Linked DNA regions of Homo sapiens: regions 2 and 3 are each linked to region 1. The links come from fine-mapping of genetic effects on gene expression. A gene starts in region 1. Each other region holds a variant in brackets. All regions are shown on one strand. Distances are between the middles of the regions.

Region 1 (6,388 bases):
AATTCTTTCTAAATGAATATGTAAATTTGTTGCAACCCCAATAAAATATTAATTGATTTTTTAAATATAAGAGCAGCTGGTTCTAAGACTTTTGTATAAATATCAAAATTCAAGCTTAGCCAGAAAAAAAATCTACAAAGGAAGCATAATGAATTAGGCAAGCCCTATTAGATAATAAAACATATTATAAAGCATTTGTGATTAAGCTAGATGAATGAATTGATAGAGAATCCAGAACTAGACTCAAACACATATGCAAATTCAGTTATGACAAAGGTGACATTTAGAAGCAAATGCATTCTTCAAATGATAGTGATTCTATTCATAAAGTTATAACACTTTTTTCTTACCAATGTTTTATTATTATAATATTATACATTTATTATAGTTACATTTATTATAAATATTATGCACTTTTTAATATAAATGAATCTGTAAAGTCCTAGGAAAAAAATAAAGGAATTATTTTATATTCTGGATTGGGGAAAAGCCCTTTTAATATTTACTAAGTACTTGTTGCCAAGCAATTTTTAAGCACTTTACATATATTTATTTATTTAATTCCCACACAATGTTATAATCCCCACTTTACAGATGAGAAACTAAAGCACAAAAAGGCGAAGTGAACTTGGCGCTTGGACCAATAGTTCAAAAGCGGCAGAGTGGAAGTACAAAGCCAAATGGTTTTACTCTAGAGCTTGTGTTCTCATAAACTACCTGGAAAAAAGACAAAGATGAAGGCCAGTGGCAGGTCCTGGTGCAGCTTGCTGGGCTCCATCCCTCCTTGGCTGTGAAGCATAGGTAGTCCCTGACTGTCATGTCCACAGATGGGTCATTGTTAGCACAGGTATGACATACTGTGGCATTATTATTTATCCTGTGAACGAATAGCAAGGTGGCCCTGCTGGCAGGAGAAGAAATTGTGTACTACCTGGACGTGAGAACCAGGTGATATGATGTGTGAAAGGCAGTTTTGCAAACTGGTTAAGTAATTATGCTAGACCTGGCAAGACCTTACTCTAGAAACACAAGATATGATCACAAACAACCCATGTGTTTCCCACAAAGAAGAGAAAGCTGAAGAGGCAAACTCAGCAAACTTCTGCATGCCCGATGGCCAGGGCGTACTGGCATACTTGTTTAAAATATACCTATTGTGCGGATCAGTAAGCTATAACTTCTGCAGGATTTATATGTCAGATAGCTCATTTTTGTCAACCCTCCAACCAAGCTTTCTGAAGAATTACTTCAACTCGTTCTTCACTGTCTACTCCAAATTAAATTCCAAATGGAAAAATATTTTGATATAAACCAATCTATAAACTTCCAGAAAAAAACATGGGGAATTATTTTTATACTCCAGAGTGAGAAAGACCTTTCTCATTAAGCTCAGATGTTATAATGAAAAAGAAGGATCATTTTTACTATGTTAAAATTTATGTATGGAAAAAATAATGTCAAAGACAAATAAAAACTTGGGAAAATATTTGCCCCACCCATAGCATGCAAAAGGCTAATTTTCATTATACATTCGAGAGTTATTTCAAAAAAAAATCATGAACAGAGCACACAAACAGAAAATTCACCAGAAAATAAATATAAATGGCATAAAAATATAAAAAGATATTCAACCTTAAAATTTTAGATGGTAATTTAAAATAAAATGAAATATCACTATTCATTTACTGGACAAAAATCTTTGCTAATGCACAGTATTGATGAAAGGAGAGAAAGAGACACTTCCAGACAGTGAATAGACAAATTGGTACATCTTCTTTGGAGGACAATTAAAAATGATACTAGTAATAATAATATAAATAGCTTACTTTTTTTGAGTATCAGCTATGTCAGATAGACGTTCTATGTGTTTCAGATATTCTAACTCATTTACTCCTCATAACAACCAAATGAGGTAGTTTCTATCACTATCACTATGAGAACACTAAGGCACAAAATGATTAAGAAACTTGTTCAAGATCACATGTCTAGTAAATGGAGAAGCTGAGATTCAAACCCAGAAAGTCTGGAAAATTCAACTTAAAACACCACACCACCACACACACACGCACACATGTTAACTACGGGTTGTAATAGATGTGTTAATTAATTTGACTGTAGTAATCGTAGTAATCAGTATCCAGTGTACATATATGTGTATCACATCAACATGTTGTACACCTTGAATATATATATACTTTTTATCTGTCAATTAGATATTTTTAAATTAAATAAACCAAGCTTGACAACACCCATAAAAATTCAAAAATTTTATACCCATTATATTCATTAGGATTAGATTTAGGTACTTGACATAGAAAAGAAAATAACTGTTGCTTAAACGAGGTAAAAGTTAATTTCTCTCCCAAATAAATAAAATCTGGAGGTATATAGCTTAGAACTGGCAGGGCAGCTCTTACCCTATAAAGTCCTCAAGAACCTGGCTCCTTCCAGCTCCCCACTCACCACCAAAAGGGTGTGGCCCTAGGCAGCATGTGAAGTACAAAAACGAATAAAGAATAGAGGACAGAAGGCACTTGTCATCTGTCTCTCAGAGAAGTTTTTCAGAAGCTGTCACGCGACACTTCCCGTTCCACTGCTCTAGCTGCAAAGGAGGCTGGGAAATGTAGTCTTAATTCTGGGCCGCCATTTGCACAGCTTTGCATTGTATTACCATGGAAGAGGAGGAGAAGGGAGATTGAGGGACATGTGGCCAGCTCTTTCCTTCCTGCTGACACCACAATTCAACTTCTAGGAAAATTTCTACTAGATTAATGGCACATTTGTGTAACAACATATTACACTGATTATTCCCCATTTATCCTTCCTCTCCCTGCCTACCCTGTACCTTGCAGACTGACCTCCATGGACTGCATCACCTGGGCTTCCCCAACCTCTGACTTCCACTTCTATTCAGCAGCTGGAAGAACCAGCAGAAAACCAGAGAGCAAAAGGAGATAGCAGTCAGGGTATTTATTCCTCTTGCTCCTACTCTGATGGCTGCAGTTTGGCTACTGGCTCCATTCCTCACCATGTGGCTGTAGCTCCGTTTGGCTGGCCTCTCTCCCACAGCCATGGTCTCACTGGCTTCTAGTAACACTGCTCCCTCCCCTTATCCCTTCATGCCTGGGGTGGTGAAGGCTTGTCACTGTTGGGAGTTCCTGAATGTTTAGCCATTTATTGCTGGTTCTATTCATCCTGCCAGCACCTGTGTAAATAGTACCTCCATGACTAAACTCGTCAGGTAAGCTTGGGATGTGCCATCTGCTTCTGCTGGACCCTGATTCATACACATACGTGCAAGGACTTTCATTACAGCAGTGCTTGAAATAGTAATAGACCAAAACAAATTAAATATTTATCAATAGGGAACTGATTAAATATCATGCAGTTATAGTAGTAATATAATGTAGCAGTTTAATAAATAATGGTGCACTATCATGTACACTTAAAAATTTGCTAAGAAGGTAGACCTCAAGTTATGTGTTCCTACTGCACTAAAATAATAATAATGTCTTTATGAGCTAAAATAGAGAGCTCTTGATGATAGGATGCTACCAACTGTATATTAAAATATAGATATAGATGTACAGTTAGGTTTGGATTTAGATATATTTGCATGGTGTGTTATAAATGTATATGTAATATGCATTTCTATACTTAAAGGTTTTTAAGGAAAAGACTAGAAACTGAGACTGGTGGTCACCTCTGGGAAAGAATAATGGAGAATAGGGTAGGAAAGAGCTTTACTTTCATTGAATATCCTTTTATACTATATGAATTTTTACTACATATATATTACCTTAAAAAACTATTTAGAGAAAAAAATATTAATTTTCCTTAGGATACATATAATAGGGAAGCATACGAATAAGATAGTAGCATTCCTTTGAGATTCCATTACTATAAATCGGATTCCAATTTTCTCTCCCCACCACTGTCTGCCCTCTCGTAAACCCTCCTCCCATACGGGGGCACACCAAGGGCCCTCGCTTCTAATGAAGGGCAGTACCTCATCCCCTGGATCTACTGTGGTCCTTACTGTGCTCTCCCTATGCATTGGTGTCAATTAAGGGAGTACATGTTCTGTTCCAAAGCTGTAGGAAGTGCTAGAAACCAGGAAAATGAATGATCCCTGTCCTCAGAGAGATTATTTCCTATGGAGGGACATAAAAATGTAAGAGGTGTCAACAGGAGTGAATATAGAAATTGGAGACAGGGCACAGAGACGGTGTGGTCGATTGTAATCAGGGACTAAAATGCAGAACTGGAAGGATTTCCTGAGAGGTGAGAGAGGAATGTGGTGGCAATGGTAATAAAAGGAGAATGGGGTGCCCTCTGAAGACAAGCAAAATAGAGGGCATTTGAAGTAGCAGAAACAATGTAACTTGAAGCAGGACACTTAAGATAATTTAAGACTACTGATGGCAGATTAAAACGGGGAGCCAATCAGCTGAAGGTCATTGGTGTCATCATCATCCTGGAGAGAATCAAAAGGGAAGGGTAGAAGAATGGGTTAAGAATGTCTATTACAGTCATTATTCAGGAAAGAAAAATAAAGACTAGCTAAATGTTTGATTACTACTTTAGACTGCATTAAAATATGAGCATATTAAGATGTTGCATCAAAATGTTCTTGTGCCTTTTGAGGGGAAGACACATAGGCAAGAAATAATAGAGCACACTGGGGAAATTGCTGATAGTTCTTGAGGCATGACAAATAGCAAGGGAATAATAAGGCTGCAGAGGTGGGGGCAGTGGCTGTATGATAAAAGTCTTTTCTATCATCCTGGAACAGCCAGTATTTGGCTGGGCAGTGATGTAATCAGTTGTGCATGTTAGAGAGATTACTAGGAGTATGGAAGTGAGGCCAATTAGGAGACGGTGGCACTAATCCTGAGTGAAGGTGGAGAAAGGATAGGCACACAAGAAATGTTGATGCAGTAGAATCAGCAGAAGTTAGTTATTAGTTGAAGGACAGAGGTGAGGAAACAGGAGGAATTGAAGAAATCTATATTTCTAGTGACCAGATTGGTAGGGGTGCCATATACTTGGATAAAGAATAAAGGACGAAAAAGCCTGGGGAGAATGTGTGGAGCTTGAGGTTACTTGTGAGTTCCAACTTCATGATTTCACTTATAATCTCTTCCTATACTCAATCTCTCTTTTCTCTGCTCTTCAATCCTCAAGTCTCCCGTCTCCTTCTTACCACAATTTTGCCTAATTAATGCCTACTCCCTCTTTAAGAATTAGCTCAAGCAACCTTCCATCCAGAAAGTCCCTCATGACATTTTGTCTTCTTCCAATGAAGGCTGAGTTAGGTGGCTTTTCCTCCCACAGTCTGGTAATGTTCTGTGTTTATTTCTATCATTATACCTTAATGCACGTCAAATTATTTTTCCTTTACAGATCAGTTTCCCCTACATGATGTTAAGCTCCTTATGGGTAGGATCTACGTCTTCCTCTCTAGTTTCCCCAGCATATAGCACAGTGTTTATTAGGATGTGATAGGCACTCAGTGATTGTTGAATGAATGAATAAGTTTTGAGTGGGAGAAGAAACACTTCTTTTTCTTAGACTTAGGTAGAACCATTGGACGGTGTCAAAAGTTGTAGTTATTAAGGGCTAAGTGAGAGTTTGAAGGTATCTGCAGTCTAAGTCTCATCTAGGAAGTAAGAGTCATTCCCCAAGAGAAAGGTGGGTTGAGGACAGTGATGGGCATTTGGAATTGCTGCTGTGGAGAGTGAAAAGGGGAGGAGCCCAAAAGGTCTGGTTGACATTGGCAATAATAAAATTATAATGGCAGTGACCCCAGTGTCTGTATGATTCCCTCTAGCAGTTCAGTGGGCTGAGTGTGAACAAGGAGGGGGTTGACAGTGGAACTCATCAAGATCCACAAGGCGGATTCAGCAGAGGACAAAGAAGCTCTGACACAGAGTGACAAATGGGTATAGATTGGATTAGGAAGAGAGGTGGAGCCACAAGAGACAAGACTGAGAGAAATGAGAGTGAGGAAATGAAAGACTATAAGTCTACATCATGCTGAAGAAAAGAAATTGTGGGGTAAGGTAGTGGTCAGGTGTGGCTCCTTTGAGAGACTAGGGTGTTTACTTTGAGATTCCTGAGTTGGACCTCTTTTTTGGGGTGATGTCAGAGCCTAGGTTTTAGTGCAGCCATGGAAGTAGGTTGCTAAAGGGACCTGGAAGTTAAGGTTGTAGGAATCAGAAAAGTTAAATAACTTTAAAGCTGCATATTGAACTTACTGTATCAAGATTCTGAAGTTACCCACAATAAAGGCAGGAATGGAGTGAGAGGAAGAGTAGGAATGGGGTTGCAGAGACTCCAGTGAACAATGGGTGTGCCCAGAGATTGAGTAGATGGAGTGAGGCAG
Region 2 (6,388 bases), 190 kb after region 1:
TTCAAGCAGACACCTAAGATTTTTCATCATAAATTTGAATAACTTCAAAATATGTACTTATTAGCATATTGTAAATATTGATTTTTAAATAAAATATATCACACTTTGTATCCAATGAACTCTAAACACCATAGCAATTTGACACTTACTCTCCCACCCTCAGTCTTAAAAATTCACCAACAACCTCTTTTTTAACAACCGAAAAATTTGTATTATTCCTTTTTAAAATTTTGAAGTTTTCTGGATTGAATTATTTTTATAATGATTTTTAGTATACAACTGACCAAAGCAACATAAATATATAGCATATTTTGATAAATAATTATAAAACATAGCAAGTTATGTGTTATTGGAAAATTAAACTAAATGAATGGATCTTTTTAAATTAGTTCGGGTATCTGTGGCTGTTCCTAACTGTTAAAATGAGACAGAGTCAGCGTCAATTCTACTCTTATTTTTTATTTTTTTAGACGTAAGCCCTGAGAAAACTTGTTCAATTAAATAAGTAATGAGAATGTTAGGCATTTTCTGATAAAAATGTCACTCTGTTATTTGAATGCCTTCTTGATTATAAGTCAAAAAGTACATAGTGATCTATTATCAAAAACTATTGGCCTATCTGTTGACAACTTGGGTAGGTCCTCCTTTAATTTTATTGAAAGCAAAGAATTGGAAACTACCTAATTTACAAAAAAAAGAAGAAGAAGAAGAAGAAGAAGAAATGTGTTACCTAATTATTAGAGCTCACTTTCTAAGTTTCTAGGAAGTATGACCCAAAAAAGCTTGGCCAAGACTTATCACATGGCTGTTGATTATACCATCACCCTTTTACTTACAGGCGTCTTGCTTATGGACCTAAAAAAGATGAAACTGGAGTTAGAAACAAAAACAGAAAATTGTAAATTGTGCATTTGGGGACTTTTCTCCTTGACTGTGAACAGAGACCTATATACAATGCCAAATTTCATTTTTTAAGAATGTCTCAAAATGCAGAGTAAAGAAATGACAGAAGGACAGACACTTGGGGATATTCATGTATATACTAATAACTTCTTCCCAAATATGACTGAAGACAATACACTTAGCAGAACTGAAATCAATATATTAACATCTGAAAGGGAGAAATTAATCCTAATTCAATCAAGCCAGTTTTCTAAAGTTCAGGTCATTGCATATTAGATTTACATTTTGGAAAAATTTTTTTTGCTTTTGAACCAATAGATTTCTGCTTTTGACAGTATAGTTTAAATACTTTATGTAAGTTGACAGCAAGAGAAAGAACTTAGTCACCAATAAGTATAGTACAAGATTATGGAAAGCACATTAAGGACCTCTAAGCACATTAGTTAGAGTATAATCTGCAATATATTCCTGTTAAATTACTTAATGCTAATTCTGTGGACTGAATTTCATTCCCCCAAAATTTATATTTTGAAGGCTTAACCCTTAATGTGACTATATTTGGAAATAGTGCCTGTGAAGAGGTGATAAAGGTTAAATGAGGTCACAGGCTGGGGTCCTACTTCACTAGGACTGGTGTCCTTTAAAGAAGAGGACAAGATGCCAGATGCTCTCGTTCATGTGCCCCCTTTCTCTCTCTCTCTCTCTCGCTGGTTCACTCTCTCTCTCTCTCCTCCTGCCCCCCATGTGAGGATATAAGGAGAAGGCAGCCATCTGCCAGCCAGGAAGAGAGCCCACACCAGAACTTGACCATGCTGACACCCTAATCTTGGATTTCTAGCCTCCAGAGTTATGAGAAAATAAATTTCTGTTATTTAAACCACCTGGTGCATGGTATTTTGTTATGGCAACACAAGCTGACTTATATACCTAATAACTACATGGCAGGAATTAATACATGAACGGGAAAGTTGTTCATGAGTGACAGTGAGCAGGAGACCTGTACCTTCATCAGAAATGAATATAGATTTCATATTTTGCTAACTTTTAGCAAAAATTAATGAAAGTGTTTCTCCTATAAATCTGAGTAAATATTTAAGAAAATACAAAATACTAACTTACCTCTAATATGTGTTTCTTTTGTTAGAAAATGTAGCCTTGATATGTTGGAAGAAACTGTAGTCTTTTCACCTTGAAGTTATGCAAATTACACTCCTGAGACATAGAGTAAAATGCAGCTAAATGAGAGTATTCACAGAGCTTGCTCTCATTACTGAGATGGTGAAATTGCAGAGAAAATGTGGTTCATAGCTCACTGGCATTTCCCAGTACACTTCTTACAAATCTTGAATATTTCAAGATAGACAGAGACCTCCCATGAGTTTGCCACCTGGATGAATAACTTACTGCCATCTTCAATATTTCTTTTTTCTTTTTCTTTTTTTTTTTTTTTTGAGATGGAGTCTCGCTCTGTCACCCAGGCTGGAGTGCAGTGGCGCGGTCTCAACTCACTGCAACCTCCGTCTCCCAGGTTCACGCCATTCTCCTGCCTCAGCCTCCTGAGCAGCTGGGACTACAGGCACTCGCCACCACACCCAGCTAATTTTTTGTATTTTTAGTAGAGATGGGGTTTCACCGTGTTAGCCAGGATGGTCTCGATCTCCTGACCTCGTGATCCGCCCGTCTCGGCCTCCCAAAGTGCTGGGATTACAGGCGTGAGCCACCGCGCCCGGCCAATATTTCTAAGAGATGTTCTCTTTGTTTTTTTCTTTGTTTTTTTTTTTTTTTTTTTTTTTGAGATGGAGTCTTACTCTGTCACCGAGGTTGAAGTACAGTGGTGTGATCTCGGCTCACTGCAACCTCCACCTCCTGGGTTCAAGCGATTCTCCTGCTTCAGCCTCCTGAGTAGCTGGGATTATGGGGTCCCACCACTATGCCCGGCTAATTTTTGTATTTTTAGTAGAGACTGGGTTTCGCCATGTTGGCCAGGCTGATCTCGAGCTCCTGACCTCAAGTGATCTGCCCGCCTTGGCCTGCCAAAGTGCTGGGATTACAGGCGTGAGCCACTGTGCCCAGCCTGCTTTATTCTCAAGTCTCTTTCCTCAGGAACAATGCCTTCTTTGCCAGTAGTGAAGACAGGAGGAAAATGCCATCACTTCTCCTGCCTAATTCCATGATACTCCTGAAGTCCAAACACCCCGACATGGGTGAGCATACCTGCTTAAGGTATGCTTTGCCCCTAAAAGAGATAAGCATAAGACAGAGAAAGATAATATGCCCTGCACCTTTGGTTTATGCTGGTTTGATTAAAGGAAAATACCCATAGTATTTCCTTCAACAGAGTATTTCCTTTGAGAGTCTCTCTCTCTCTCAAATACCCATAGTTTGACTTTCCTCAGCTTGGTGTCCCAGAGGTTTGTATACCCAGGGCAATTAAGGTACCACAGCATAATTTGAG[G/T]TGGATGAAAAATATGTCACTTTTTTGTAGGGCAGAAGAAAAGGAGCTATAAAAGAAAAGGTGGATAAGGAGAAGCAGCTTGATTCAGGGGCACTTTTGAGCAAATATAGAAATATATATATATAGAGAGAGAGAGAGAGAGAGAGGGAGAGAGAAAGAATTTGGAAATTGATTCTGAGTCTGCATAGCTCTTGGGATGTCCTCATGTACCCCTAAAGCTATGCAAATCTCAATTTGAATTAAATATTTCTACCATTGCTAATAATTATCATTGCAATGTACTGGGAACCTATTTTAAACCAGGTAGTATATTAAGTTTCTCATATATATATATATATATATATATATATATATATATATACACACATATATATATACACATGTATATATACATATATATATATGGAGAGACAACATGTGCTCATTTAAATTGTACTTCTCATATGATAGTCATTATTAACCCCATTTTAAAGGTGAATAAATTGGGACTCAGAGAAAAGTAATTTGCCCAGGATCCCACGGCTAGTAAATGCCACAGCCAAATTCAACCCTAGCTCCATTTGATTGGAGAGCCTGTGCTCTGCAGTTCACCCTACGTGGCCTTGTTTCTGTGTTCTCAACTGGCAGCAGCTGAATATCTCTGCCTTCTAGAGAACCAGTGCTTAAAAAGTAATAAGTCTCTAATGGTGGATTTCAGGATTATGTGGCAGACTTTTGAAAGGTATTTTCATCAAGACACTCTTCCTAGTGCCTCCTGAAATCATGAAAATACATTTTTTCTCTCTTTTTCTGATACACACATCACTCTGTTTCTTAATGAGGTTACAGAGGTGGGGAGAATCAAGTATGAATAGCAAATAAGCATTCAAATTAAGAAAACTTGAAATTATTCCAGGGTCTCTATTTAGTTCACTGTTAGAAATCCTAACTGTGTTTTCATACTTAATTTAAAGACGTTGTGGTCACTAGTTCTTTTTTTTCCTTAAAATATCCCCCAAAGGATTCTTTAATTCTCAATTTTTGACCTAAGCCCATGAACCCAATCCCTTTAGTGATTAACCACACAGTTAAAAATTAAAGGTAATGATGATCATAAATGACCATTAATTCTTTAATTCTCAATTTTTGACCTAAGTCCATGAACCCAATCCCTTTAGTGAATAACCACATAGTTAAAAATTAAAGGGAATGATGACCATAATAGCAAACCATAAAGAATATCCTACTATTCTCTGCAAAAATATAGACAAATTATGGTAATTAAAAAATAGCCCCCTTTCAACCTATTTCACACATATGTACACACACAATTTTCAGTGGAACTGTGAGTAAAGTGAATCTACACTTATATTTCATTATGGAGCTTAAACTAATATTTATCTATTCTTTAAGACAAATTAAAGCTTGTATTTTTGGGTGGGTTCAGCTAAATAGTAGTTTGGACAGTAGTCCTTGGTCTGGGGCTCATGTATTTTTCAGACGTAAAGACACCTAAGAAGTTACAAGAGCACAGGGTGAATAAACAACATCAGTTTCCTAGAGTGCAGATTTAGGAGAGGAGAGAAAGCTTAATGATCTAGACTAGAAAAGCAGCTCCCAAGACAAAAGAGCACCTCTGTTGGAGCCAGCCACACTGCATTTTGAGACGCAGCTCAAAAAGGTGGAGAGGGGAACGGGAAAATCTAAGGAATTTTGTAAGGTGAGGGAGTCGGACAGAGAAATTAATTATGCTAGTTTTTAAGGGTATATTTGGTCCTCAATGAAATACTAATGTCATATGTTTATGTTTTGCTTAAAGAACTTTTACATAAATGTATTATTCATAACGGCCTGTGGGGTTTGTGGGGAAGGCACTATTTTTGTTAAGTGGCAGAAAAGAAAATGCAGGCACAGAGAGGCTGGGCGAATTGTCCATTGTCCCATAGCTGGTTCCTTGGCAGAGTAATGATCAGACAGACCCCAATCCAAGGGAGTCCCACCTCTTGCTAGCAGTCAGAGGCACTCTTTTTTAATTTGCCAAATTGTTCTAAAACTAAATATACAAGTACCATATAATCCAATAATTGCACTCTCGAGTACTTATCTCAAAGCTTTGAAAACTTACGTTCACCAAAGACCTGTATATGAATGTTCATGATGTCTTTATTCGTAATAAACAAAAGCAACCGAAATATTCTTCGGCAGGTGAATGGTTAAACACGCTGTAGTCTATCCATACACCATACACTGGAATACTTTTCAGCAGTAAAAAGGAACAAACTATTGATAAATGCAGCAACTTAGATAGCTCTTAAGGGAATTATGCTGAGTGAAAAGAGCCAAACTGTTTTTATTTTATTTTTTTTTTCTGGAGAAAGGGTCTTGCTCTGGTGCCCAGGCTGGAGTGCAGTGACGTGATCAGCCTCAAACTCCTGGGCTCAGGTGATCCTCCCACCTCAGCCTCCCAAAGTGCTAGGATTATAGGAATAAGCCACCACACCTAGCCTAAAAGAGCCAATATTAAAAAGTTATATACTATATGATTTCATTTATATAACATTCTTGAAATGAAAAATTCTAAAGATGGAGAACAGATTACTGATTGTTCATCAGGGTAGGAGTGGATGTAGGATAGCGACACAGCCTTAGTGATGGAACAGTTCTATATTTTGATTATAGTGGTGGTTACATGAACCTATACATTACAAAAGCTGCACAGAACTATACATACACACACATGCAAGAACACATCAAACAGGTGAAATGTGAATAAGCTCTGTGGATTGGCCTAATGCCAATTTCCTGGTTTTGGTGTTGTGCTATAGTTAGGCAGGATGTTATCACTGGGGGAAACAGAGTGAACATATATATATATATAAATATATATATATATACACACACACACACACACACACACATATATACATATATATATACACATATATATATGTGTGTATATATAGATATACATTTTTTTTTTGAGACAGAGTCTTGCTCTTTTGCCCAGGCTGTAGTGCAGTGGCACGATCTCGGTTCACCGCGAACTCTGTC
Region 3 (6,388 bases), 170 kb after region 1:
TACCTTGTTCAAAAGGAAAACGTTTCCTCGAAAGGATAGGATAGGAAAATTGTATGTCAAGAATATATATATTCCAATGGAAATTTAAAATCTGAGAGTAGAAGTATTTAAAAGGGGATAAACCCGGAAAGAGATGGAAGTAGTATCTTTGAAGGACTGTAATACAGATACCCAGCACATGAAGGAAATTGGGTAAAACAATCCTAGATAGCTCTCATGAGCAGGGCAAAGTCAGAGATAACCAGGTCCATGCATGTTTGTGTCTCCACAATGTCAGATTTTTACTGATGCTATTTTAACCACAAAAGCCACAAGCTACATGGAGTTCTCAAGAAGGCAACTCTCTCCTTAGTACTTCTCGTTCACTCCGTAGTCAGAGCACACAGCTCAAGCCACTCCACAAGTCAGTCAACATTGCAAACCATATATAGTAGTATATTTCATCAACATATAAATGTTAAGATTAAACATTCCACACCAAAGTAATATTTAACATCAAGAGAAAGGGAATAGGAAAAAGGATTAATGAAGTAGTCCGAGGAAAGTGACGATGAAGACAGAAAGAATCTCCTGGTCTGTGCTCGGCGGTCCAGGAAAGGTCTTGAAAGGAAAAGTCTTTGATGTGGGCAGAGCCTTCAGCAGCAGATGCCAGGTGTTGATCACTAGTGACAGTAAGAGCATGTCAGTTAAGATGGCCGCTTTGAGCTGCTGAAGCCCTGCTCTTTTTACGACCACCAGAGGACTGATAGTGGAAGTGTGTGCTTGTTTATGCCCTTATCTGGTTGGATGCAGTCTTTATTTATTACAAATTTATTAAGCAAACATCGTATCCCTGTTGGCAAAATGTCCCGTGAAATGTAAGATGGAGTCTTTTTTTTAAGATGGAGTTACTTATGTCAAGGGTGCTCAATACAATAGCCTTTGTTGGGGCTTTATAACTTAAAATGTGCTTTCTCACATTTTCTTCAATCTCAGAGAAGACTTATCAGATGAATAATACATTATCATTATTTTATGGAAGTTATAAGTGATTAATTGACCATGCCCTGTTAAATTAAGTTTAGCCTAAAGCTGCCTCCTTACATATTTTTAAGTTGAGGCTAAAGGTTTCTCTGCACATAGTGAACTGTAACCTAACTGGATGTATCAACAGACTGTAACTTGCTCTTGTACCCATCACTGAGCTTCAGCCAATTGCAGATGGCCAACTGTTTAAACCACGTTCAAATAAGACAAACATCAAGCTGTAACAATCCAGCTGTTCCTATTCCTCACTTCTGTTTCACTTTCATTTTTCTGTTCATAAATCCTTTTCACGTGAGTCTGTCTGAATCTATTCTGGTTTGGGGATTGCCCAGTTCATGAAACATTCTTTGCTCAATTAAACTCTGTTAAATTTAGTTTGTCCAAAATTTTTCTTTTAGCAGCTGCAGATCGCCCAACTCATCGGTGGTAGGTCTAAGACTCGAGCATGGGTCTTTAAGCCTAAAGTCTATATTCTTGCCACATAGCCATGCTATCTTCTGATACATGTAGCAAAACTGCTACAGAATTGGCCACCTGGAACCAGTTAGTGGTATCCTGCTATTAACCACATGTATTGGTTACCTGATGCTGCCATAACAAATCACCACAAACTAGGTGGCTTAAAACAACAAAAAATTATTATCTCAGTGTTGGCAGCTAGTAGTCTGCAACTAAGGTGCTGGCAGGTTGATGTTTTCCTCTGACGCCTCTAGGGAACCTTCCTTGCCTCTTCCTAGCCTCTAGCAGTTGCTTGCCACCCTTGGTGCTCCCTGGCTTCTAGATGCATCACTGCAGTCTCCACCTACGATCTTCTCCCTGTCTGTGTCCCTGTGTCCCAATGCTCCTCTTTTTATAAGGATCCAGTTATATTGAATTTAGGGCCCATTCTAATCCAGTATGACCTCGTCTTAACTTGATTACATCTGCAAAGACTGTATTTTCAAATAAGGTCATATTCACAGGCTCCAGGTGAACATAAGCTGGGGAAAGGCACACATTCAACCCAGCGCACAGCAGACGGAGAGTTTGTTCTTGGTTTGGGTTACTGACAATTTTCCCTCAGCAGGTAAAGGAATACATTTAGGAAATTTTTGTCCTGGATTCCAACAAGAAAGAAGGAGGTGTCAAATGCAGAAACAAGCAAACCTTGGAATAAAATGGCCTTGATGTTTATAATAGTGAAAAAGGTAATGGTCAGACCTTCAGAAAGGGGGCTTCATAAAAAGTAAGGAAAATAATAGTGCCCAAGGGAATATGTTTAGAAGAGGAATGTAGACTCTGAAAACAGGATTACTTGAGCATTACAAAAATGATCCTGTTTAGGAGGAAAGATATGCTGTCTGGAAAGAAAATATAATAGAAATAATCTCAGATAATTGACCATAAACAAGCTTGTGCTGAAAACATAAACAGCAAGAATAGAATAATAGTCTAGGAGCACACAGTTCTCAGAGAGGAGGTAAAAGGAGGGTTAGATCTGGAGTAGTAAGACTCGAGGTTCCTATGGCTCAGAGGACGGATGGGGTGGACAGACCCAAGCATGCGATAAAAGAAAGGGAAAATTTGTTTAGAGTATTATGAGAATAAAGTCTTAAAATAAAGTAGGGGCGGAGATAAATACTAAAGACAGCAAGAAAGCTGTTTTTCTTTTTAATCTCCGTAGCCAAGAAAAGATCTGGGAAGAAAAACCTATGCTGTATCTCAGACAATATCACCTTAGGCCAAGCATGGTGGCTGACACCTGTAATCCTAATGCTTTGGGAGGCCAAGGCAGGAGGATCACTTGAGCCCAGGAGGACCTCTTGCCCACCAGCCTGGGCAACAAAGTGAGACTCCATCTCTACAAAACTTTGTAAAAAATTAGCCAGGTGTGGTAGCACACGCCTGTGTTCCCAGCTACTCGGGGCTGAGGTGGGAGGATCACTTGAGCCCAGAAAGTAAACCCTCACTAGCCATGTTCACTCCACTGCACTCCAGCCTGGGCCACAGAGCAAGACCTTGTCTCAAAAAAAAAAAAAAAAATTACAATATAACCTTAACAAATGATAACATAATCAAAGAACCATTCAATTTTCTGCTTCCTTCCATATTCTAAGAGAGATGAACATCAATTTTGAAGCAAACATTATGAAGAGAGAATTAAAACCTACAATAGAAAAAGAGATAGTAAGAGAAATCTTCACTTACTCTGAATGACTTCAAAACTTCTGTTAATACAAATTCTATCCCAAAGTATCAAAAGAGTTTGCAGATGAGATCAGAGAACTGCTCCTGAGAATCAAGGAGAATGGAAAAGGTGACTAATGGCTGGAAAATGTTTCTACTTCTAAAAATAGTGAAAGAATGAGATCTGTATGTAAACTGAT[G/A]AGCCTCATGCAGACGCCAAACAAAATTCTAAAATGGATGATTTGTAGGCAAGATACAGTAAACAAATACTAACCAGTGTGAATTCACTAAGAACAAGTCATGCCAACCAGTCTCACTTCTTTTCTTAGATTTGGTTGCCTGTGTGTCAGGAGGAAGGCATGCACATGGTATGCCTTGGTTTTAGCATAGCATTTGCCAAATATCGTGATGCACACCTTTTGTTGTTAAGATGGAGGAATGAGGGCCCAGGTAACAGCAAGATGACTGGTGGTTTGCTGCATAGTTAGGCATTCAATGTCACCCAAAGAATATTGGCCAAAGACTTGACTTCCACCTTAAAAGGCAAACTCCAAGAATTTATGATTTGCTCATTTCTGTTCAATATTTTTGTCAAAAACATGAAAACCACAGAATGCATGTTTATGAATATTTCAATTTAAAAATTAGGGAGACAGAGCTAATACACGAGGAGACAATTCAAAACTATTTCTTCATATAGAAATCAGGCCCAAAACAAAGAAAATACAAATTATTTGGGATAAACATAAGGCCAAAAAAAAAGAGAGAGACAGAGAGACTAATAATACCAATAGCTTACATTTATTGAACAGTTACTATGCATTATATAGTCACATGCCATATATACATATGTTTTGAGACTGGATCTTGCTCTGTTGCCCAGGCTGGAGTGCAATGGCACAATCTTAGCTCACTGCAACCTCCCCGTCCCAGGCTCAAGCAGTCCTCCCACCTCAGCCTCCCGATAGCTAAGACTACAGGCACGTCACCATGTTTGGCTAATTTATATATATTTCATAAAGATGGGGCTTCATCATGTTGCCCAGGCATTATATTTTTTAACCTCATAACCACCACATTATCATTAGAATTATTGCTTTTAAAATTTATCAGCGAGGAAGCTAAGCCTGAGGGGCTAAGTAATTTCTGCAATTTATAGTTAGTAAGTGGCCAAGACTTAAATCCAGGTGTGCCTAAATTCAGGGCTTATGGTTTTAGCAACTTTACTAGTCTCATCAATGCAGGAATGGAGGTTACTTGGCATTAACTTATTTTGAGTTTTAATTGAAAACACCCAGATAAAAGTGTTAATATTGCACAGTAGCCACTTAATAATGCTATCTTCTTTCTTACTACAACATTGAAAATTTAGGAGAAACTTGATAGTTGAATTCAAATAATTTAAGAATTGATAAAATCTATGTAACTCAAAACAAAAAAAACTAAGATTACAGTTAAAAATTACACTGTGATATATATATATCATATATATATGATGGAATATAGGCAATGACTTATTTATGTTAAAAGATGGAAGAAACATAGATCAGTGTAGTTAAAGCCCAGTGTAGTTCAACCATATATATATGATATATATATGATGGAATATATATATATATATATCATATATACATAATGGAATTATATACATGATATATATCACATATATATGATGGAATATATATATATATATATATATATATATATATATATATATATATATATATCTCGCAGTTTCTTTATCCACTAATTGATTGATTGGCATTTGGGTTGGTTCCATGATACATATATCATATATACATGACGGAATATATATATCATATAATATATATAATATATATATCATATGATATATATATACATATATTATATATATCATATGATATATATAATACATATATTATATATATATCATATGATATATATAATACATATATTATATATATATCATATAATATATATAATACATATATTATATATATATCATATAATATATATAATACATATATTATATATATCATATAATATATATAATACATATATTATATATATATCATATAATATATATAATATATATATTATATATATATGATGGAACACTACTCAGCCATAAAAAGGAATGAATTAATGACATTCACAGCGACCTGGATGAGATTGGAAACTATTATTCTAAGTGAATTAACTCACGAATGGAAAACCAAACATGGTATGTTCTCACTTATATGCGGGAGCTAAGCTATGAGGACACAAAGACATAAGAATGATACAATGGACTTTTGGGACTTGGAGGGAAGGGTGGGAGCCTGGTGAGGGATAAAAGACTACAAATAGGGTGCAGTATATAGTGCTCAGGTGATGGGCACACCAAAATCTCACAAATCACCACTGAAGAACTTAACTCATGTAACCAAATACCACCTGTACCCCAATAACCTATAGAAAAATAAAATAAAAATGAATGACAAAAAAATTACACTGAGATAAATTTTTGTTCAATAACATGAACATTTTTCTATATTGTGGCTTTCCAACCACGGAATAAACTACCTTGCACAGGAATAAGTTCTGTATCAGCATTTCTATGAGTGGGTAGTTGAACTGAGAGGAGAAATCTCTAGGTGATTTCTCAGTCTTCTAAATCTAAGGTTCAATAAAGAAAACAGTTTAAAGGTTAAGTGGTGCAAAAAGGAATTCCTGAGAATCACTGACTCATAACTGCAAGGAAACTTGTAGTCATCAGCAACATAAGTTAAACAAGTTGTGGTCTAAAGCCTAAGTCTCCTATTTTAATTCTTTTAGGAAGGTAAGAAACCCTCGGAACACTCCACTTATTCTATTTTATTTATCCTCAGAGTGTTTATTGAAGGTACAGCAGTCATCAACATCCCCGTTTTGTTGACTGGAAAATGAAGCAATTCCACAGCCAATGAATGGCAGGGCAAGATGGGAGGTCAGTTCCTGTAGACATCTGGTAATCTTTCCATGACATTACTGTTTTCATCTCAATAGATGATCCCAAGGCTTTTTTTAAAATTAAATATATTTTTAAAGTAATTTTAATTCTCTCATTCATATATATATACACATATATGTAATTTACCACTTGTGAAACACTTAATCACATGATTTTGATCTACATCCATATGGTTCTATGCAAATTCCTTACCAGCTAGTAATTAAGAACCCTGGTTAAATG

Alleles and levels. Alleles are on the strand shown, and positions count from the first base shown. SD is a standard deviation of normalised expression in the study named.
In carriers of allele T in region 2, the expression in adrenal gland of the gene that starts at base 2,511 in region 1 tends to be lower than with G alone (small effect, 0.38 SD a copy in GTEx).
For the expression in aorta of the gene that starts at base 2,511 in region 1, allele G in region 3 goes with a lower level than allele A (large effect, 1.1 SD a copy in GTEx).

The links. PIP is the estimated chance that this variant, and not a neighbour inherited with it, causes the effect.
Region 2: its variant is the best candidate, but not a certain one, in a credible set for the expression of CTB-30L5.1 in adrenal gland (GTEx, PIP 0.89).
Region 3: its variant is the best candidate, but not a certain one, in a credible set for the expression of CTB-30L5.1 in aorta (GTEx, PIP 0.57).

Annotation. Positions count from the first base shown.
Region 1 is chr7:106,596,337-106,602,724 of GRCh38, forward strand. It overlaps CTB-30L5.1 (a long non-coding RNA gene), which reads right to left and starts at 2,511. Exons shown (of 4, transcript NR_187788.1): 1 at 2,418-2,511. RefSeq lists an enhancer at 2,620-2,669.
Region 2 is chr7:106,782,734-106,789,121 of GRCh38, forward strand. All of the region lies in intron 1 of LINC02577 (long intergenic non-protein coding RNA 2577), which reads left to right. Among named protein-coding and RNA genes, the nearest start is that of LINC02577, 11 kb to the left of the region's middle. The variant G/T (reference allele first, on the strand shown) is at 3,359.
Region 3 is chr7:106,766,939-106,773,326 of GRCh38, forward strand. No RefSeq gene overlaps it. Among named protein-coding and RNA genes, the nearest start is that of LINC02577, 4.9 kb to the right of the region's middle. The variant G/A (reference allele first, on the strand shown) is at 3,393.